Regions from separate parts of the Homo sapiens genome. Here region 2 is linked to region 1. The links come from fine-mapping of genetic effects on gene expression. A gene starts in region 1. The other region holds a variant in brackets. All regions are shown on one strand. Distances are between the middles of the regions.

Region 1 (10,398 bases):
GTCCAGAAGAGAAGAACAAACCTGCAATCCTCTGACCCCAGAAATTCCACTTATGGGAGATAATCAGCCACGTGGACCAAGACTTAACATGCCGAGATGCTCCCTACAGTTTCTCTTATAGGAGGGAAAAGAGGGCAACAATAATCTAAATGTCTACGAATACAGGAGTCAATAAATTATGGCATATCCGTATAATAGCAATTATATAATTATAAAAATAACGTAGAGGAATACACTATAACATTAAAAGGGGAAAAGCAAGCTATCAACTGTGTATTCAATGTATATATACTATTGCTCTAATTTAGAAAACACAGACATTATCAGAGGAAAGAAACACACCAGCAACTTTACTGCAGTTAGCTCTGGATGGTGAGGTCACAAGTGATTTATATATTTATTTTGGCATTTATTCTTTTCAGTATTTTCCTTTTTTTTCAGATGGAGTCTCGCTCTGTGGCCCAGGCTAGAGTGCAGTGTCGTGATCTCGGCTCACTGCAAACTCCGCCTCCCGGGTTCATGCCATTCTCCTGCCTCAGCCTCCTGAGTATCTGGGACTACAGGCGCCCGCCACCACGCCCGGCTAATTTTTTGTATTTTTAGTAGACACGGGGTTTCATCGTGTTAGCCAGGATGGTCTCGATCTCCTGACCTCGTGATCCGCCCACCTCAGCCTCCCAAAATGCTGGGATTATAGGTGTGAGCCACCGTGCCCAGACTTTTTTTTTTTTTTTTTTTTTGAGACAGAATTTCACTCTGTCTCCCAGGCTGGAATGCAGTGGCACAATCTCGGCTCACTGCAACCTCCACCTCCCAGGTTTAAGTGATTCTCCAGCCTCACCCCTCCTGAGTAGCTGGGACTACAGGCACTCGCCACGGCATCCAGCTAATTTTTGTATTTTTAGCAGAGACGGGGTTTCACCATGTTGGCCAGGCTGGTCTTGAATTCCTGACCTCAGGTGATCCGCCCACCTCGGCCTGCCAAAGTGCTTGGATTACAGGCGTGAGCCACCGTGCCCGACCTACTTTTTATTCTTTTGAGACAGGGTCTCACTCTGTCGCCCAGGCTAGAGTGCAGTGGCATGATCACGGCTCACTGCAACCTCAACCTCCCAAGCTCAAGTGATCCTCCTGCTTCAGCCTCCCAAGTAGTTAGAACTACAGGCATGCGCCACTATACCCTACTAATTTTTTCTTTTAAGAGGCATTTTTTTATTTTCATCACATTGCCCAGGCTGGTCTTAACCTGGCCTCAAGCAATCCACCTGCCTTGGCCTCCCCAAGTACTGGGATTACAGGCATGAGCCACCTTGCCCTACCACAAGAAAAATGTATTTAAAGGGCCTTGTACAATGCCTGGCAAATGATAGGTGCTCAAGGAGTATCTATTGCCTGACAAGTCAATTAAAAATGCAATAAATACTGCTGCTGCAGCCCCACAGAGAAAAAGACTGATGGTTATCTTGGAAAGGAGGAAGACGGTCCAGACGGAAGCCACACAACTGGCTGCAGAGGTAAGAACGGAAGGAAGTCCTGTACAAGATGTGAAAGACCGCCAGCAACTTGAGATAGGCTTTGTTCTGCCAGCTACTCCTGCTGCACGCAATGCTTCACAAATCAGTGCTGCTGCCAGCACCTCGGAGGTGCACTTCAGCTCGGACGAAGGATGCTTCTCAGGTCACACAGAAAACCAACAAGTACAGCTGAGAACAAAGCTCAACCACAACTTCTGGCTCAAGACACTAAGACAAACCTACCTCCCAGCACAAAAGAGATTTCCCACGTGCCACCCAGAGGTATAAACAGTAATATCGCCAATGGCAAGGCCCAGGTCTGCCAGCTCCCAGGTGAGGAGGTCCAGTCTGAATGGCACCTTTTAAACCTAAAGCTAATGACAAACAATTCTATTTCACCAGAAACAAAGCTCACCATATCCCATGTCGCTCCCATCTCCAACACCACAGCCAGTGCCTGTATTTCTTTGTCCCAATGACAGACCCAAGTTTCCTGAGGCTGTACAAGTCCCAGAAATAATCTTAAAAAGAGATCAAGTTATGATCTGAAAAGAAGACAGTCTAGTTAGCCCTGCCTCCTTACATGAAATTTATTTAAAACCAAAATTACAAGATTTGGAGCACAAAGCCCATTGTCTGCTGGAAATGTTGTTTTTTGGGGAGAAATCCATTGTTTTAAAATCTAGTATAGATAGGCTCTATTTAGTACCTGTCCGCCCATGACAAGATATGTACATTTCACGGTAGGGAAGCCTCATTATTGAATTCAGAAATACATGAATTGACCCACCTGGCCTATTCTGGTTTGAAATAGAAACCAACACAGAAATGATCAATCTTAAGGGGTAGGATAATGAGACATATAACTAGCATACAGCCACAGCCATTAGCAACATGAGTCAGTACTTTGTGCAAGGCAAAAAAAAAAAAAAAAAAAAACCCTCAAAAGTACAATAAAATAATCCTTCAGGATAAAAAAAGAGAACTGAAATTCAAAAGAGGTTAGGAGTGTTGAACAGGAAAAAAAAAATTAATAACAAAAATCCCTCAGCTAAGCACAAGGCAAAGGGACCCATGCTGGAACCAGTTCTGACCTGCCATTCCTGAAATTCCACTCTCCCGAGGTTTCCTGGCTCTTCCTTCCCCAGGCTTTCTTTTTACCTATTTGGGCCCAGTGGAGGCTGGAGACGGCCACTGTACGAGATGGGACGCCCACACAGTGGGCTTAGGGCCTAAGGCAAGGGCATGCAATCAGCATTAGGGGGCCACAGATAACCAAAATTCACAGGTATGCAGAAGCTCATGGGAGAGGCAGCGACTATCTCCTGGCCTAACTAACCAGTTAACAGTATAGAGCCAGACTGGGCCCGAGTGAAGTCAGACAAAAAGGAAGGGCCAAGAGGCAGGAAGCGAGGAAAAATCAAAGGATGACAGGACCCTGCTAAAATATCTCAGTTCCACAGCTAGGAGGTCTGGAGGGGGTGCCACATTTTACCAAAAAACCAACAAGATGGTTGCGGGAATGCCAAAATGAACCAAAACAAATTCCCCAATAAAATGCAGAACCACTGCAGAGCCATTTACCAACAAGCTAACATGTTCAGCCAAGAGGTGACCTGGGTCTCAGTCCTCACTTGTGGCCAACACTGGGTTCAGTCTGTCTCCTGCTTCTTAGCAATAGTCCTTCCACACAATCTCAAACAGCAGACACCGAGATCTGGCTGAGCTCCCTAGCTGTACTAAGCCATTCTGGTGCTTCCAGGTAGATGGGTGATAGTCACCATAGCAAAACATTAGCCGGCCATAGAATTTGGGGTGGGGAAGTCACAGTTCCATCAACCAAGAGAAGAGGAAAAAATAAGCATTAAGAGAAAGAAGACCGGGCGCGGTAGCTCAGGCCTGTAATCCCAGCACTTTGGGAGGCCAAGGCAGGCAAATCACCTGAAGTCGGATGTCTGAGACTAGCCTGGCCAACATGGTGAAACCCTGTCTCTACTAAAAACACAAAAATTGGCCAGGTGTGGTGGCACATGCCTGTAATCCCAGCTACTCCAGAGGCTGAGGCACGAGAATCGCTTGAACCCAGGAGGCGGAGGTTGCAGTGAGCTGAGATCACATCACTGCACTCCAGCCTGGGCGACAGAGTGAGACTGTCTCAAAAAAAAAAAAAAAAAAAAGAAAAGAAAAGAAAAAAGAAGGAAGGGAAGGAAGGAAAAGGAAGGGAAAGGGAGGGAGGGAGAGAGGAAGAGGGCAAGGGAGGAAGGAAGGAGAAAGGAACCAGAAAAACAGATAATCAACAAACACATACATTTCATCACCTTCCTATGGAGAGAAAACAATTCACTGTGAATCTTAAGTGAGGCTCCCAAGAGCCCTAATAGATACCCAAGGCAGGCATAATTATTCCCATTTTACAGATGCAAGATCTGAGCCTCAGAGACTTGCTTTGTAAAGGTAACCCGATGAGGACCAGAATCCAGCTGCGCAGGCTCCAAGAGACACACTTGCCCAAACAAGTAGAAACTCACTCTCAGATGATTATCTGCCAATCCCCAAGGAAAGCAGTTATCCTCAGAAGGCAGGACTCCTTGGGCGTCTGTTTGTCCTGAGCATCTCGTACTGTTCTAACCCTGCCTTAAACTGACCAACTGCCACACACTCCGGGTCTACTAAGTTCTAGAGACCTCCAAATGCTACTTTTTCCCATCCCTGCCTCCCGAGAGGCTCAGCACTGTATAAGCGCCCACTAATGTTTGGGCCTTGAATTCCTTCTGTATTGTCCATGCCTTAGGCCAGCACCTGTGGCATCCATGGGCACAGTTTGGCTCTATGGGTGGCACCACAAGGGGCTCACGTCTGTCCTAGGACTTGACAGCAGTTATACCAACAACCGTAGGAGGAACCACTAACTGTGCCAGGCCCTCTGCTAGGCCCTTCACCGCTGCCCAAACCTGCCAGGTGGAGGGTGCACGCCCCGATTTATGCAGATGAAGCCTCAGACAGCCCCAGAGTCACTAGGTTTACGGAAGAAAGAAGCAGGATCTGCACCCCAATGCCTGGGCCTCCCCAGTCCCACCTTACACCACAGCGCTGTGCATAGACATGACTAAATGGCTGCAGCGAGATTCGGAAAAACCATGCTAAGACCGCACACAATTGGTTACAAAAACCAAACTGGATGACACTGTACAAAGCCACATCAAATGCACACTAAACCTTAAAGAAAAAAAAAATCTTAGGGAAAGTTTAACAGTCCTGTAAACCAAAGGCATTTAAAGATTTCTCCCAGGAAGCCATTTAGCAAAAGACACTCCCCAGCCCCCCTTCTCCCACTTCCTTCAAGCTCACCACTGAAAACACCTCCAATTCTTGCCTAAAGGTGGGCTCCGACCTCCCACGATATTTAGAAGGAGGAAAAAAGAAAAAGGAAAAAAATCCACCTCTTAAGGCAAATCCACTCTTCAGAGGCCCACAGTTTCAACAGGGCTGAATTTCTCTCCTGGGGGTTGAGGGGAGGCAAAAGAGGAGGAAAAAAAAAAAAACCCCATCTGGCAGGCCCCGAGTGGCGACATCCTGTTTATTATTAAACATTTTTAGCATGGAGCATTCAGCATTTCGAAAATAACCCTCTGGTTCCCGCACTCACACCGAGACTGGGCGGCCGCTCGCCTCCCTCCCCCAGCCGCCAACTTTAGCGCCGCCGGGGCCCGGCCCACCCCGCGCCAGGAACGGCCCCGCGAACGCCGCTCAGCGCCCCGGACCCAAGGCCCGACCCCGCAGGATCCCGCCTCGGGCGCGCTGCTCCGTCAATTGGGCGGGGCGGGGAGCAAAGACGCCGGCCCCAGAACCCCGAGACCCGGCTGCGGGCCCGGGACCCCCGCCCCTCCGGCCTCTGCAGCCCGGCCCGGCCTCGGGGGTACGGGGGTGGCGGGCGAGCCCTGAGGGAGTCGCGCGGCCCCTGGACCCCGCCCGAGCCTGAGGCCGCGCGGCGCCGCCACAACAATGGCGAGCGCGCCCGGGCCCGCCGCCCCCAGGCCCCGCGGCCTCCCAGCCCCGCAGCCCCGCGCCCGGCGGGAAGGAGGCGGCGGCGGCCGCGCTCGCGGACAAAGGTCGGGCAGGGCCGCAGGGCCCCCGGGCCCCCGGCGGCGGCCGCGGGAGACAAAGCCCGGCCGGGCCGCGCCGCCTCCATCTTAGCGCCGCCGCCCCCACGCCCCGGCCCCGGCCCCGGCCCCGACCCACCTGGTCTGGTTCCGCGGGCGCGGCCGGGCCGGGCGATGGCAGTCGGGCGGCGGTCGGGCACGGGGGCGGCGGGATGGCGGCGGATTGCGAGGCGGCGGCGCGGGCTGCTCGCTCGCTCGCTCCCTCCCTCCTCCCGGGCTCGCTCGTCGCTGCGCGGTGGAGCCTCGGCGCCTGTCTCGCCGCTCGCTCCCTCGCGCTCGGCTCCCCGCCCCCCGCCTGCCGCCGCCCCCGCCTCCTCGTCCTCCTCCTCCCGCCGCCGCCCGCAACCTGGGCCCGCGCAGCGCCCCCTGCCGCGCCTCCCGGGAGCGGCGGCCTTGGGATCGGCCCGGGGGCCGGGCGAGGGCTGGGGCCAGGGGGGAGGGGCGGGGAGCGGCGGGAGGGGGCTGGGAGGGGGCTGGGAGTGGGGAGGGGCCCGGGGACGGCGGGAGAGGCGGGAGAGAACGGGGCAGAGCGGGGATCGGGGAGGAGACCCGGAGGAGGGGCCAGGAGCCAAGAGAAGGGGCCTGGGAAGGGCATGGGCCCGGCCTGGGCCCGGGGGAAGGGCGCCCGGAAAGAGGGGGAAGGGATGGAGGGGGCAGTGACGGGGGAGCGAGCCCGGATCTCCGCCCCCTCCCCCTTCAAAACTGCAGCGCCTCAGAACAGACTAAGCCCGGATTTTGTTAAAATATGTATACGGTATATGAACGGAAAGGAAGCAGAAATAATACTTTTTTCATTTCAAAAGCAAGGTTGTTGCACAATATGGGTACTTTGTCCCATTTTTACAAAATGAAAACTAATAAGCCCCTCCTCTTGAGTGTTGTGTGTTTGTGTGATTGCAAAACAAAAGGTCCGGGAGACTGCACTCCTGTCTTGGTTACCTCCGTGGTTTGAGGTTGGGAGAGCGGAGGAGGGTTCTTACTTTTTTAGACACCTAACCAACTATAAAAGCAATTTCAAAAAGCAAATACAAAAAAAAAATGTTAGGGCCTGGCACCCAAATCATCCCACCCTCTTCCAGTCACGGTTGCTCTAAGCACCAGCTGCGGGCCATGCCCTATGCTAAAGCACGTGGTTTGTCTCACTTAATCCTAACCCAGGGGCAGATATTATTGTTCTAATTCACAGGTGAGACAAAGGAGGCTTTGAGAGAATGTGCCCCAGGCCACACTGCTGGACCCAGAAGGAAAATTAACCCACTTCAGCCTAACTCCAGAACTGAGGCTGGTGAACAAAGCTTAGTTTTTGGGGAGTAGAATTCTGGATACTTTTATAGCCTTATTTATAATTCTCTGAATTTTCCTACATTTTATCCATGGTCATTTTCAGTGTTATCCTTTTTTTCTTTTTTCTTTTTTTTTTTTTTTGAGACAGTCTCGCTCTGTCCCCCAGGCTGGAGTGCAGTGGCACAATCCGCAATCTCTGCTCACTGCAACCTCCAACTCCTAGATTCAAGCGATTCTCCTGCCCCAGCCTCCTGAGTAGCTGGGATTACAGACATCTGCCACCATGCCCAGCTAATTTTTGTATTTTTGGTAGAGATGGGATTTCACCATGTTGGCCAAGTTGGTCTGGAACTCCTGCGCTAAAGTGATCCACCTACCTTGGCCTCCCAAAGTGTTGGGATTACAGTGCCGGCCACTCTGTTTTACATCATCAAATCTGCATTATTCCCCTGCCAATGTCTTCAATATTTCGCTATCTCTACAAAACAGGGAGGATGTAACCCTAATTTTTGTTTTCGATTTTGTTCCTTGACCATCTTCAGGAAGGCCATAGAATTGGCCCAGTGCTCAAAACCCAGCAACTAATAAAAATGATAGAAGGCAAATAAACAAATAAAAAATAAATTAAATAAATAAACTGAGCCTCAGGTTCTTCATCTGTAAGGCTGGCGCAGTGGCTAACACCTGTAATCCCACCACTTTGGTAGGTCGAGGCAGGTGGATCATGCGGTCAGGAGTTCAAGACCAGCCTGACCAATATGGTGAAACCCCATCTCTACTAAAAATACAAAAATTAGCCAGGCATGGTGGCAGTCGCCTGTAATCCCAGCTACTTGGGAGGCTGAGGCAGAAGAATTGCTCAAACCCGGGTGGCGGAGGTTGCACTGAGCCGAGATCATGCCACTGCACTCCAGCCTGGGTGACAGAGTGAGACTCCATCTCAAAAAAAAAAAAAGAAAGAAAATAAACAAGCAAAAAAGAAATAAACTATCTGAAGCCTCAGATTCTTTATTTGTAAGGCCAAGCGTGGTGGCTCACCCCTGTAATCCCACCACTTTGGGAGGCCGAGGCAGGCAGATCACCTGAGGTCAGGAGTTTGAGACCAGTCTGGCCAACATGGTGAAACCCCGTCTCTACTAAAAATACAAAAATTAGCCGGGCATGGTGGTGGGGTCCTGTAATCCCAGCTACTCGGGAGGCTGAGGCACAAGAATCACTTGAACCCAGGAGGTGGAGGTTGCAGTGAGCCAAGAGCACGCCACTTCACTCCAGCCTGGGCAACAGAGAGAGACTCTGTCTCAAAACAAAATGATAGGAGGAGGCTGAACAGTAACAGGGTGGTTTACTGAGCACTTACTATGTGACAGCCACTGTGCTAAACACTCCCTATAGAGTCACTCAGGTAATCCTCACGACATACCCATAAAACAGACACTAGTGTGCCCATCCAACAGAGAAGAAAAGTAGACTTTGTGGAGGCAATACAATGCCCCCCACCAAAGATGTCCAAGTCCTGATCCCTGAAATCTGTGAAAATGGTACCTTCTCTGGCAAAAGGGATTCTGTAGATGGGATGAAGTTAAGGATCTTGAGATGCAGAGATGAATCCTGGATTATTTGGTTGGGCAGGTGGAATCACAAGGGTCCTCACAAGAGGAAGGAAGGAGGGTCGGAGTCGGAGAAGATGTGGTTGATGAAGCGGAGTTCATCATATTGACTGACAAAGGAATGACGCAGGACCTCACGCCCAGAAATGCAGGCTGCCTCTAGAAGCTACAAAGGACAAGGAATGGATTCTCCCCTAAAGCCTCCAGAAGAAAATGAGCCCTGCCAACCACCGTGACCTCCAGAACTTTAAGATAACAAAGTTACATAAGCCACTAAATGTGTGGTAATGTAGCAATAGAAAACTAGTACAACCTTGGAGACTTGCTGAAGGCAACACAGCGAGGGAAGGGTTAAAAGGCAAGCTAGGGCCAGACACAGTGGCTCAAGCCTGTAATCCCAGGACTTTGGGAGGCTGAGGTGGGCAGATCACTTGGTCAGGCGTTCGAGACCAGCCTGACCAACATGGTGAAACCCTGTCTCTACTAAAAATACAAAAATTAGCCAGGCCTGGTGGTATGTGCCTGTAATCCCAGCTACTCAAGAAGCTGAGGCAGGAGAACTGCTTGAACCTGGGAGGTGGAGGTTGCAGTGAGCCGAGATTGCACCATTGCACTATAGCCTGGGCGACAGAGCGAGACTCTGTATCAAAAAAAAAAAAAAAAAAAAAAAGCTAGGGCACAGTGGCTCACGCCTGTAATCCCAGCACTTTGGGAGGCCGAGGCAGGTGGGTCACGAGGTCAAGAGATCGAGACCATCCTGGCTAACATGGTGAAACCCCATCTCTACTAAAAATACAAAAAATTAGCCAGGCGTGGTGGCGGGCGCCTATAGTCCCAGCTACTCGGGAGGCTGAGGCAGGACAATGGCATGAACCTGGGAGGCAGAGCTTGCACTGAGCTGAGATCACACCACTGCACTCCAGCCTGGGCGACAGAGCAAGACTCTGTCTCAAAAAAAAAAAAAAAAAAAAAAAAGGCAAGCTAGGAGTCTTGGGAGAGAAGAGACCTGGCTTCAAATCCAGCTCAGCCATCTCCTACCTCCCTGACCATCCTCATGGAGAGAATGGCATGCAGTCATCCATCCCTGCAAAGTGCTTAGCCCAGAGGAGAGCCCTGGGAATCAAAGTTCGTCCGTTCATTCACTGGGCACCTGCACTCTGGTGCTCACTGTGCCAGGCTCTGGGGCCATGCTGTTGAACTGGGCAGAGAAGGGCCACTACAGTCAATAAAACAAACACAGGCCAGACGCAGTGGCTCACGCCTGTAATCCCAGCACTTTGGGAAGCCAAGGCGGGAGGACCACGAGGTCAGGAGATCAAGACCATCCTGGCCAACACGGTGAAACCCTGTCTCTACCAAAAATACAAAAACTAGCCAGGCGTGGTGGCGGGCACCTGTAATCGCTCGGGAGGCTGAGGCAGGAGAATCGCTTGAACCCAAGAGTTGGAGGTTGCAGTGAGCCAAGATCGCCACTGCACTCCAGCTTGGCGACAAAACAGGACTCCATCTCAAAAAAAAAAAAAACAAAAAAAAAAACAACCATGTTCCGAGGTTTTAGTTCTGGTTCTGTCTCCAACCAGCAGAGCTAGCCTTTTGGTGCCTAAGAGTTTCTACCTGCGAAAATTGGGTGGGGAGCACTGTGGTGTCTCTCCAGCTGGGATCCCCAAGCAGAGAAGAGAGCTTGGCACAAAGTAAGCACTCAATCTCCATGGTGGTTGAAAAGTGGATGCCTGGACAACTGAGGCCAAAATCATGGCTCCTGACCAACCACACAAAACACACGGCTCACAAAACCAGCCAAATAAGCACATGCACTAAAGCCTCCAAACCTCA
Region 2 (11,753 bases), 94 kb before region 1:
CTTTTCATTATAAAATGGGAAAACTTAATTTCACCTGTGCTCCCACCCAGCCAAGACAAAGATGAGACACACCACTGACTAGAACCAGCGCGCGCACCCCGGCTCCTAAAGCCGACCCCCAAACCTAACCGAGTCTCCCAGGGCGCCTCAGCCCCGACCTGCCAGGGCTGGTCCACCTTCCAGCACCACCTCCTCAGAGGAATCAGCATCCTCCCTTCTCTGCAGGACAAGGAAGGATCCAGACGCCCGTCAAGAGGAGAAATGCCTTCGCCAGGAGGGACGCGGGCGGCCCAGCTCCCGGTTCTGTGCTCTAACCGCTAGGGCATGGCTGTCTTTAGACAGGGGGCGCTCAGATAGGTTGGACAGTCCCTTCTCTTTTGGCGCTTGGAGACGGGCCTAAGTGTCCAGGGCTGAAGGGTCTGGAAAGCCATCTTCTACCTGTTGCACGTAGTGTCCCTGCACAGAGCCCATGTTAACTGCTGATCCAGAGGGCTTCCCACTGGGGCTAGCAGAGCTAGGCCTGAAAAAACCAAAGGCAGGGGTTGAGAATACACAACGTGTCACCACAGAAATGGAGTCAAAGCCTAGCACATGGAGGAGGCACAAGGAAGGAAGGGCCTGCGGCCAGAGGCGCTCACTCGGGACGGTCCGTGGATCTCTTGGATGGAAAACAACCACAGACCTAAGACAGCCCAGAACGCAGAAGGGTGAGGGGGTGGCTGTCACTGACCACCCTGGCACCTCCAGGACAGAGCTCAAGGAGACGCACCGCAAGAGAGGGAGGCTGAGGCCCTGTACAGATGGGCATGGCTGTCCTGCTGTGCAGAAAGCGACACTGGCCGTCTCAGGGTCTGGACCAACACGATGCAGTGCCCCAGACAAAAGGCCTAGAAGCCTGACGCTGAGCCAGAACTGTGCCGAGTATTGTTCTAGTCTTCACTTTTCAGAAAAGGGGATGGGGGAACCAAAATGTACAACATGCTTCTAAATGTGTTCCACTGACCACTAGTTAGTTCCCAGGGATGTTAATTAGGTGCTACGTGGAAAAAAAAAAAGTCTGCGGTCAAAAAGCCTAAGTGCCGTGTGCAGAGTTCAACAGGACTCTCAACCTAGGCCCGCTCAGCCTGTGTGGTGAGTACCCTCCCCAGCAGGCCACCCTGGGGACAGCACTCCCCCAAGGACCTGACCAGGGAACCCTTGTTTTTGCAGCGCACATCTCAGCAGCTCTATTTCCAGAACACTTTGGCAAACACTGCTTTATACAATTATAGCAATTTCCCCAACCCCCCTAAAACACCATAGAAACAAAGCTACTAGTTTAAGGCTTCCACTTTCTAAATATGCTCCAAAGAATAATCTGCTGCCATTCATTCCTACAACTACATAGACACAGGCGACTCTTGTCCCGTGAGGCTCTGTCTCTGGGTTTTGCTTTTTGAGGAAGGCTCTGTAGCCAGAGGCTGCTGGAATCTGCCTGTGGCAGCAGCGGGACAGCGTCTGCTGAGACCTGCAGCCGCCTTCCTCCTTCCAGTTCCGCTCCATGGTCGGTGCTGTCCAGCTATCTTTTTCACACAGTCCTGATGTTTTGGTCTATGTGACAGACATGGTAGGAAAACGAAACGTACTAAAAACAGAAATAAATGAAGCCAGGAGAGTGAAAATAAGAACAGAAAAGATGGAATGGGAGGAAAATCTACAAAAACCCCTTTCTCTGGAAATGAAGGTACAAGAGTGGAATGCTGTGATGGAGGACAGGCAAAGGGCGGTGGGGCAGAGGGAGGGCAGCAAGGCAGAGGGGGTGCAGCTGGAGCAACTTGCAGACCATGGGGGCCCGGCTTGCAGAGCGCTCCTCAGGCCCACAAGTACCTGTGTAGTCGTGGGGATACCTCATGGCGTCTGCAGCGATGGTGTTAACCTCACAGGGCACCATGGGTCAGGCAGGTCTGTTTCACTCATTTGTAAACACAGAGGGGTCTCAGGAATCTCCCACATGTAACAAGGGTGGACTGTACAAGCCCTCGGAGCCCAGGGCCAGAGCGTGCTGCCTTCACACACCAGCACGGGCAGAAAAGGCAGTGGACCAGAGGCTCTCGCCAACATCCGACAGAGCCACCTGAGTATCCAGCTAAGGGGACCTGAGACAGTTGCTGGAGGTGGAGACAGACACAAAGGAAGCAAAAAGAGGGTGCTGGTTTGTAGCATGGAAGGAATGGCCCCATAAGCCCAGCAATAAAAAGTCCCCTGGCAGGGGTCATAGGGCAAGTCTGAGGAAAGAGACGCTGGGAAAGGCCACGCTCCTCCCCTTGCCAGGATGCAGCCCTGTGGCCAGTGGGTCCTGTTTTTAGGATCTAATGGGAAGTCACGTCAGTCCTGATGCCTACTAAATGTCAGCCGTTCCTTTTCCTACCTTTCCAGAAAGCTCCCCAATCCAGAGCATCTTATTATAATGATTAAAACCAAAACCACTCTCCTGACTCCTCACTCCCCCAAATTTAACTGGAACACAAGTGCATCCCAGTGCTGAAACACCACAGTGACACATGGCCCATAGAGGGACCAGGTCTCTGGCGGCTCTCCCTGGGCCCAGATTCTTCTGAGTCACTGGGCCGCAGCTCTGGCAACTGCTCAGCTACACAGCACGCAGTCCCCAGGGAGTGGCTTTACCTGTAGGTCTGTGGCGATGGCACGGGGCCTCCTGAAGGGACATTCTGTTTACTGTCGGCAAAGTGGAAGCCTTTCATCTCCATCTGAGAGGGCTAGAGAGACCAAGCAGGAACAAGCTGTCATTTGAGGCCCTGGAGACAGCTGGACCACACACTTACTGAACAACCCAGGGCAGAGGTGGTGAGGGCCATGGGAATTCCCAGGGAGGCATCTTATAGAGCAGTGGTTTTTGGCACCAGGGCCCAGTTTCATGGAAGACAATTTTCCCACAGACCAGTACAGCTCTGCAGCCCGGGGACTGGGGACCCCTGTTCTAGAGAAATCTGCAAGCCCTTTCCCTCTAAGCCAGACTCAAGAGGGCTTCTTCTTAGAAGCAAGAACCATCACAATATTTTGTTCTTTTTAAAGTGAAGTGGGAGAGCCAATGAAACATGGCCGTCCATAGCAGGGCCTCCTGGGGAGCTGGGGAGGAATGCTGATTCCTGGCCCTCAGCCCTCGACATGTTCAGAGTCCCCAGGACCTGCCTCTGTGATGGCCCCACACATGGTCACCTTCCTTTCTGCCCTGGCAGTCCCACGCCACTGGCTCTTTCTACCACACAGGGGTACTTAGCTTGCTAGAAAAAGTTGGTGACACAAGGCCCCCTCCCTAGGGTCAGAGGCAGATGGGGTCCCCTTACCTCTCTGCTGGTGTTCAGGACTGGCGGCTGGGACCCGGGCGGAGGAATCCTTCGGGGGGCCCCAACGGAGAGGCTCTGCCCAGGTGGCAGCTGAATAGACTGGGGCAGGATCAGTGGCTGCTGCCCGGAGCCGTACCGAGGCAGTGGCATGGTCAGCTGCTGGGCGACAATGACAGTCAGGAGGGGGAATGATGCTATGGAGAAACCCCAAACGCACCAAAGAGCGACCGCACATGCACTTCAGATTCATACACTTCAGAAGAACTAAAGCAAAGCCTGCATAAAGCAGGACATGCTCTAATTTCTACTGCAGCACAGGAGAGATCGCCCAGGATTTCACACCTTCGATGGCAGAGGCACGTCTTCTTGCTGGAATAGAGTAGGTGGTGAGAAAACGGGCAAGACTAAGCTGGCTGCAGGCATGGGAACTAACAGCGTTAAGTGTGTCTCATCCACATCTCTGCTAAGGGCTGCGTCTATCTTCAGCCCTTTCTGCCTTTGTCCAGCAAGTGCTTACTGAAAGCATACAAGGTGCCAAGGAAGCGGCAGGGCCCTGTCCAACATGGGCCTGCACACTGCCAGGATAGTGTGTCACACACTGGACACAGCTGCAGGACACTCGGGATGCAGAGCGGCATAGGATCTGTGGGTGCACACCAGATTTATGGGTGCACACGGGGCGGGGTGGGCAAGGAGAGGACGAGTGAGGAAAGTCAGAAGTAATGGCGAAGCCAAGTCCCAAAAGATGAAAGCTGCATCGGACGTATATCTCTGCATTCCTTTGTACAGCACACACGTTCAAGACTCTTACTGTTTTGCATCAAGTGGTGGTAAAAACAAGACTGGGCTGGATTCCAGACTGTGGGGGTCCTTTGAAGCATGCTGACAGGAGAACAGGGTAGCTGCAGGGCCTAACTAACTAGAACAAGATATGCGAGGTGGGGATGTGGGCCCAGAGACTGTAAGGACAGGGGAACAGGATGGGGTAGGGGGGCTGGGCCACTTTTGGTCTCTCAGTCACTGTCCTCTTCATCTCCCTGCTATTGAGTCCACAGTGGAGGGTCAGAAGGATCTATTGGAATTACATCACTGAGACTTGTGGTGGCCAGAGCCGCAAAACACCATGCTCCTCCTTGGAGCACCAAAATGGTGCAGGATGAAAATGATGGGAAGATGCTGCCATTTATAGAGTGCTGACTTGGGGTATGATCTGACTTGCAGGGAGGCCAGGTAGGAGTCCCTACAGGAGCTGGACAGCATGCAGGGGTGTGGAGGGGATGAGACACAGCTGGATTCTGAATCCTTTTAAAGCCAGAGCTGACAGGCCTGCTGAAGGGTAAGGGGGTGAGGTGAGGGGGAGCAGGGAGCCAAGGAGGATGTGGACTGGACAAGCAGAAGGACCGGGAGGAAAATCGAGTTTTGAATATGATGAGTCTTGAGATGCCATAAGACACCATAGCAGACATGCTGGAAAGTCCATTGGATTTGAGATTCAATTCCAGGGACAGATCTGAGCTAAAGATGTCCATTTGGGAGTGAGGAGAAGATGAAGGAATTTAGAGCCATGACTCTTGAAACACACCCAAAGCAGGGCCCACGGGCATGCTGACCATTACAGACTGGGAAGGAGAGGGGACAGCAAAGGAGACTGAGGAGGAGGCCTGAGGCAGCAGGAAAGCCAGGAGCGACGGCCTGGAAACTGGGTGAAGAAAGTGGTTCGAGGGGTGTGGGGGGCGGGATTACGGGGTCAGCACTGCAGCTCGTCTGTGTACTGACGGGAAGGGATATCTGATGCATGAAAGAGAGGGAGATGTGCTGGGGCAGGGCCCCCCAGGGGCACAGGCAGCACCTAGGCAGGGATGTGGCCACAGGGGCTTGGAGACTGTCACTGCTCCTGTTTCCTGGGTGACACAGAAAGGGAGGTCATGGGTGGGAGGCAGCGAGGGGCAAGATGCAAGTCTGAAAAGCTGCTAGGAGGGTGGGGGTTGACTGGGAGCCACAGCTTGGATGAAATGCAAAGGCCATGTGGCTCGGCAGATCTGCTGATGGGGAGGAAGAAGCCAGGCCAAGGGGGAGGATGACAAAAACATGGGTGGCAGAGACTGGGTGTGGTGGCTAACACCTGTAATCCCAGCACTTTGGGAGGCCAAGGTGGGTGGCTCACTGAGGTCAGCAGTTCGAGATCAGCCTGACATGGTGAAACCCCCATCTCTACTAAAAATACAAAAATTAGCCGGTGGGTGGTGGGCGCCTGTAATCCCAGCTACTCGGGAGGCTGAGGCACGATAATTGCTTGAACCCAGGAGACAGAGAGGTTGCAGTGAGCCGAGATTGCGCCACTGCACTCCAGCCTGGGCAACAGAGCGAAACTCCATCTCAAAAAAAAAAAAAAAAAAGAATTTTGGAGTTGGGTCACTAGAGGGAGTGAATTGAAAAAGCCAGAGGTGACAACTGAGAGGGACACTGAGAGTTGAGATTATGCGAGAGCCACAGCTACTGGGAGCAGCCAAGCCTAGACAGGAGTGCACAGAGCAGGGGCCCATGTGAACAAGGGCACCAGTGGCGAGGAGGGCACAAACTGCATGGACAGGGTCCATGGCACAGAGACCCGGGGTCATCTCTGCAGACATCAAAACCACTAGGAACTGGAACAGGAGAGTGGAGACAGACTGCAAGCCAGACCAGACAAGGAGGGTGACCTTCAAAGGTGCCAAATACTGCCCACAGGTTGACGGAGAGGAAGATTTCTCAGCAGACACTGGATGTGGTGATGGCACCATAGCAGAGTGAAGGGCTTGTCAGGCACAGTCTATGGTGTGGGCTTCAAAGCTGGCGTTTCAGGGAGGAAGGAAGAAGAGGAGTCTAGAAGCATCAACAACTACACAAAGAGGACTCTTAACCCATTCCACACCCTACTGCACAAGGGCAGGGAGAAAGGAAGGAGCCCCCGTCTGGGGGCTGCAGGAGCAGGCAGTGCTTAGGGGACAGCCAGGTCTCAAGAATAAAGAGATGGATGAGGGGCCAGGGGTGGTGGCTCACGCCTGTCATCCCAGCCCTTTGGGAGGCCAAGGCGGGCAGATCACTTTGAGGTCAGGGGTTCGAGACCAGCCTGGCCAACATGGTGAAACCCCATCTCTACTAATACAAAAATTAGCCAGGCACAGTGGCACACACTTGTAGTCCCAGCTACTCAGGAGGCTGAGGCAGGAGCATCGCCTGAATGTGGGAGACAGAGGTTGTAGTGAGCCGAGATCATGCCACTGCACTCCAGCCTAGGCAACAGAGCGAGACTCTGTCCAAAAAAAAAAAAAGGTGATGGGGCTACTCAGAAGAGGCTGATTTCCTGCACGCTGAGGAATGGGCACGGTGGCTACCAACCAACAGCACGATAGGCCAGCACACACTGAGAGGCGGGTGAAAAGAAAAGGCAAGGTCGTGAAGGAAAGAAGCCTAGGGCTTTGGGTAGAGTGACTGAATTCCTGACCTGTGGGAGCTGGGAGTCCAACATCTGGGAGGCACCCAGGCCAGCAGCCTGGCTGAGCTGGCCCTCGTAGACCAGGGCTTGGTTCCCGCTCATGGGCTGGTAGGGTGAGCCAGACTGCGGCTTCACCATCTCCAAGGGCTGCATGCCTGGGAACGCCGAGTATGGAGGCTTCAAGGCTGTGCCCCCAGAGAGGATCATGGTGCTGGGCGGTGACAGGCTGGGGTGCATGTACACCTGAGATCTGCAAAAGCCAGACAGATGGTCGGGATCAGGTGGATGAGTCCAGCTGCGGATCTGGTCCCACCCTTCAGAGATCCCCGGAGAGCTTGCTAAACCACAGATCCCCGGCCCCACCCCCAGAGCGCGACTCAGAGGGTCCAGGATGGGGCCTGAGAACAAGCTCCTAGATGGCGCTGATGCTGCTGGATTAAACAAGTGAAGACATCCAGGCTGTACGAGGCACAGGACATCAGCCACAATGACTGGCAGCCACACTGACGGAGAAGCCCGCGGTGGGGAGGAGACAGGGAGTCAAGGGGAGAGGAGGAGGAAGGAGCAAGGAAAGGAGGCAAGATGACATGGAAAAGCAAAACACGGCCCACCACATATCAGCTCGCCCCAGGCCTCTCCTAGAGCACAGTTAACAACGGACTGAAGAGTGATTCAGAGCAAACTCCCACCCCTCCCCGCCCCACTGGCCCCAAAGCAGACAAGCACCAAACAGCTGCAGGACGAAGGCTGCACACAGGGCCAAGGCCCTGGCTGTGAGCTGCCAGCTCCGCAAGCTGGTACATGAGCTCACCTGAAGGGCTGCAAGGAGCTGAAGATCTCCTGGGACTGGGACACAGGAAGCCCACCCCTCAGTCCAAGCTGAGCTTGTGCCTGCAGAGATGTGTGAAGGGAGATCGGGATCTGCTGGGCAGCGGCGGCCTGTGAACGGGAAAACGGGGTCGGGGAGGTAACCGCAAGGCCCATCCAGGTGGTTCTTCCCCTCCCACCTCCCCTGCCCCTCTCCACATGGCTGCTGGAACACTGCCCAAAATTCAAATGCCAGCATGTCATTCCTGGGCTTCCCTTGCTATTGGGATAAAGCCTATAATGAAAAACTGGTAGCAACCCCAAACCACAGCATATCCCTACCCTGGAATTCTACACAGCAACAAAAATGGATCCTAGCACATACGTCAACAGAGGTGAGTTCCAAAAACATAACGCTGAATTTAACAATGCACAAAAAGAAAGATACATGCAGTCTGACCCAGTTATGCAAGAACCAAAATCTTGGTAACCAAACAATACAGCAGTTAAGAACATGTTTTTAAAAAGAGGTCAGCAGAGGCCACATCCTCCATCAGCAAGCCTGCACTTGGAGCAGATTCTGCCTGGAAGTCCACTGTCGTGGCTGTGGAGGCACATGGGTCTGAGGGGCGGCTAGACCATCCCAAAGGCCCAGCACCAGCATTAGAGGGGAGACTTCCAAAAATCACCCCTTGGCAGCACAGAAA[G/AAG]TATGCCAGTCCTGCATAAATAACCAACGCCTGCTCATTTCTAAGACTACCTCTTTCTAATGCATCCATGCCTGGGAGTTTAGGCCTTTCTTCTCTTCATCAGAAGGATACCTGATCACCAAAGAAAATTCCATTTTAGCTAATTCCCCGGCTAGGACACAGGAGGGAGAACTTTGAGAAAGGAAAACTAAGCAGAGTCTGGAGCAGCCAACTCCACTCCTCTTCCCTGTCTCGATTATTCGCTTAACAAATGCCTCCTGGCTGCCGTGGCGGGCCAGGTGCTGGTCACCACATGTGAGGGGGATGGAAAACCAGACAGACAATGAGAAATAGATGAGCAAGCCAATTCCGCCCTGCACTGGCTCCTCCCCACCACCCCCAGCCAGGCCACCTGGCTAGCTGCTGTCACCTGTTGGTAACTCTGCTGCTGAGGTATCGTTTGAGGAACCAGCCGGGGCTGACTTGCAAACACATGGCCATCCAGGTACAGGGGCGGGAGGTGGCTGCCTGGAAACAGAGCGGCAAAAGGGACGTAGAAGAGGATCAAGCCTCACTACTTCTCAATGTCCCTGAGGGAAACAGTCTACAGGTCTGCTCTACCCAGGGGACTCAGTGGGGACGAGGGCGTGTGTACAGAGGCTGCTAGGTTCCCTGTGTGCCGGAAGCACACGCCTGCTCACAACACGCCTGGCACGCACCTCAGGGAACGTAGGGAGGGTGCAGCGTCAGACCTAGGAGGAGGGAGGAGGCAGGTGGGCTCTGGCCTACCCTTCCCACCTCCCACTCACCAACTACCCCAGACACTCGAAGGGGCATTCTACTTTAACCAGGGCTGCCTTGGTCTCTCAGTCACTGTCCTCTTCATCTCCCTGCTATTGAGTCCACAGTGGAGGGTCAGAAGGATCTATTGGAATTACATCACTGAGACTGGCAGCTGGGCCCTCAAAACCCCCACGCTTCCCCTTGGGGACACTGGCACACGATAAGGATGGCAGCAATCAGGACAAAAGTAGCTGCCAGTGACTGAGGGCTCTGTTGATACAAAGCCCTTTCCAGGTAAGACCTGGCCTCACGGGTGTGGCCACCCCACGGAGTTTCATGTAAGAGAGGAGAGGACACTGTGGCTCGGCAAGAGCTGCTCACCAGCCGAGGCGACACGGCTCCAGCACATGACCCAGGTCTGACTCAAAGTCAAGCCTTTGCTCGCTCCTGTCACCAGTAGGCAGGAGTGCCTCGCTGTTATCCCCCAGTTCTGTTTCCCAGCGTGGGGAAGCAGGACGTGCACATTACCTGCAGCACATGGGAGCTACGACCACTGGGCCTAAAAACAAGTTGCTACTTCTACATGCTACTTAAGACAAGGCCAGGAGGTGACATTCGGGGCTGTTAATCCGTTTTTCTTGATAATAAATGGAGAAGGACCCCAAGGCCTTGCTCAGGGGATGAGATACCTGGCATAGAAGCAGAAGGTGCTACAGAGGCCACAGGCATGGGTGGCATGGACACTCCACCGAAGGAGCTGTAGTTGACCCCGCTGGAGGCACCCACAGAGGATGGAGGCTGGATGCCTGAGCCAGCGCCGCCTGGAGAGCTCTGCTCCGGCAAACTGGGGGAGTTTTCCCAAGCCTTGCGCGCAGACTCCATCTTCAGAAGCAAGGGGAGGGGGAGGGATGAAAATTACTATCACGCTGGCAGTGGACAGAGCCAATCTAAGCTTTAGGGGTTCGGGGACTCCTCCCTTCTGCCTCTTTGTAAGCTAAGGTACTGGGTGGGCCCTCACCCAGCTCAGGGCTGGTGTTACCTTCAGAGTAAGGTCGGCGGTGGGGAAGGACATTGGGGAGAGACCGATGGCCCTCTGGATGTGATGGTCCCGCCGCAGGATGGGGATACTCTGTGTTAACCCTGCCTGGAGAGGAGGAAAAGGAAACCATGGAACACAAACAGGTGCAGAGATGGCTTTGCCCAAACCCATCCATGGCTCTCCTGAACACACTCAAGGCTCGTCCAAATGTATCTATGACTTGCCCAAACCCATCCATGGCTTTTCCCAAAAGCACCTACAGCTCCGTGTCTATGAATTGTCCAAATGCATCTTCAGTATTGGCCACATGTACCCAAGACCACCCAGATGAAACTGATGGCAGCCAGGACCATGACTGATCTCCTGGAGATGGCTGCCTCCATCAGTTTCCTCCACACAAGTCTGCAGAGAGCCACCCCCATATCCACACTCCATAGTGCCCTCCAGACAGGGAGAGCCATGTCCCGGCAGTATAAATATGGACTGGCAGCCCGCACACAAACATCTGGTTCAGAAGGCACCTGCCACCTGGCCTGGAGATGCCCTGGGCCAGACAGGGAAGGCTGTGCCCCTCAGCAAACTGAAAAAGAGGGCTCTGGTAACAGAGGCTGGAAATGCAACAGTGCCCCCGCTTCCTGCAGATCCCCGGTGTCCATCTGCATGTGACAGAGACCGCAGACTCTCGAGTAAAGAACCTCGTAGAGCCCAGCACTTCCAAAACATTGTTTTCATTCAACACCTATGAATATTGTACAGCACTCACATTCCTTGGAATCCTCTGGGAAACGCTGCCCAAATGATACTCGTTCATTCAGCATATGCACTAGCACCCACCCCTGCAGGTGGTGAGGACAGAGCAGTGAACCAGATGTCACTGCGACAGCCTCAGCTGCAGCCCCGAGTGGCCACAACAGATGCAACTGCCAGCTCCTGAGCCCATGGTAGAGCGCCAGCAGGTCTTCTGGATCACAACAGTTAGATTGCAGGCGGCAGGGACCCTTGGATGGTGAGATGGGGCCTCCTGAGGAGGGCTCTCCTACTCAATCTGTGCCCCTTACCCCTGGCCACAGAAAAGGCAGCCTGAGTCTGGGCTCGCACCTGGCACAGAGGAGACAATGGAACCAAAGAGAGCCAAATAAACCAGCCCTTAGGAACTGTATGATCCCCACTGGAAGGTCACAAAACCTGGGCAGGAACATTTAAGCACCTTTTAAGGACATGGAGCTGCTAGCAACTGAGTCACGTGCCAGCCCAGGTCAGCCTGAAATACATGTGCTGTCTCCTTCACCCAGGGCCTGCCAGCCCCAAGCAGTGAGTGGAGCCAAAAGTGGAAGTGTGGACTTACATTACTGGCCAAGGCATCCTGAAGTTTAACAACTGGACTCCCAGTAGGACCAGAGGCAGAACCAGGTGGCAAGCTGAAATCGGAGTCCTGAAAAAATAAAAAAGGCCACACAGCCCACTGAGATCCTCCTGGCCCTACATTCCCCAGAGGCATACATTAACGTGATGCAGTTTCCCCGACTCAAAAACTCCACTGAGCAGCATTCACTGGAGCCACATATGAGCGAGATGGCCAGATTTTCCCCACGGCACAGGAGACAGGACGCCAGCCTCAC

Evidence for each region. PIP is the estimated chance that this variant, and not a neighbour inherited with it, causes the effect.
Region 2: its variant is the best candidate, but not a certain one, in a credible set for the expression of PRRC2B in whole blood (INTERVAL, PIP 0.77).

The regions. Positions count from the first base shown.
Region 1 is chr9:131,389,619-131,400,016 of GRCh38, reverse strand. PRRC2B (proline rich coiled-coil 2B) reads right to left here and starts at 5,931. Exons shown (of 32, transcript NM_013318.4): 1 at 5,754-5,931. RefSeq lists enhancers at 1,449-1,528, 3,146-3,907, 4,670-5,431, 6,558-6,707 and silencers at 5,238-5,527, 5,758-5,867, 5,898-6,087.
Region 2 is chr9:131,483,172-131,494,924 of GRCh38, reverse strand. PRRC2B (proline rich coiled-coil 2B) reads right to left here. Exons shown (of 32, transcript NM_013318.4): 23 at 11,480-11,566; 24 at 10,135-10,239; 25 at 9,785-9,977; 26 at 8,743-8,840; 27 at 7,631-7,758; 28 at 6,829-7,069; 29 at 3,345-3,500; 30 at 2,665-2,756; 31 at 439-520. It overlaps SNORD62A (small nucleolar RNA, C/D box 62A), which reads right to left and starts at 9,260; the gene lies at 9,175-9,260. SNORD62B (small nucleolar RNA, C/D box 62B) reads right to left here and starts at 4,439; the gene lies at 4,354-4,439. RefSeq lists an enhancer at 5,228-5,728. The variant G/AAG (reference allele first, on the strand shown) is at 8,334.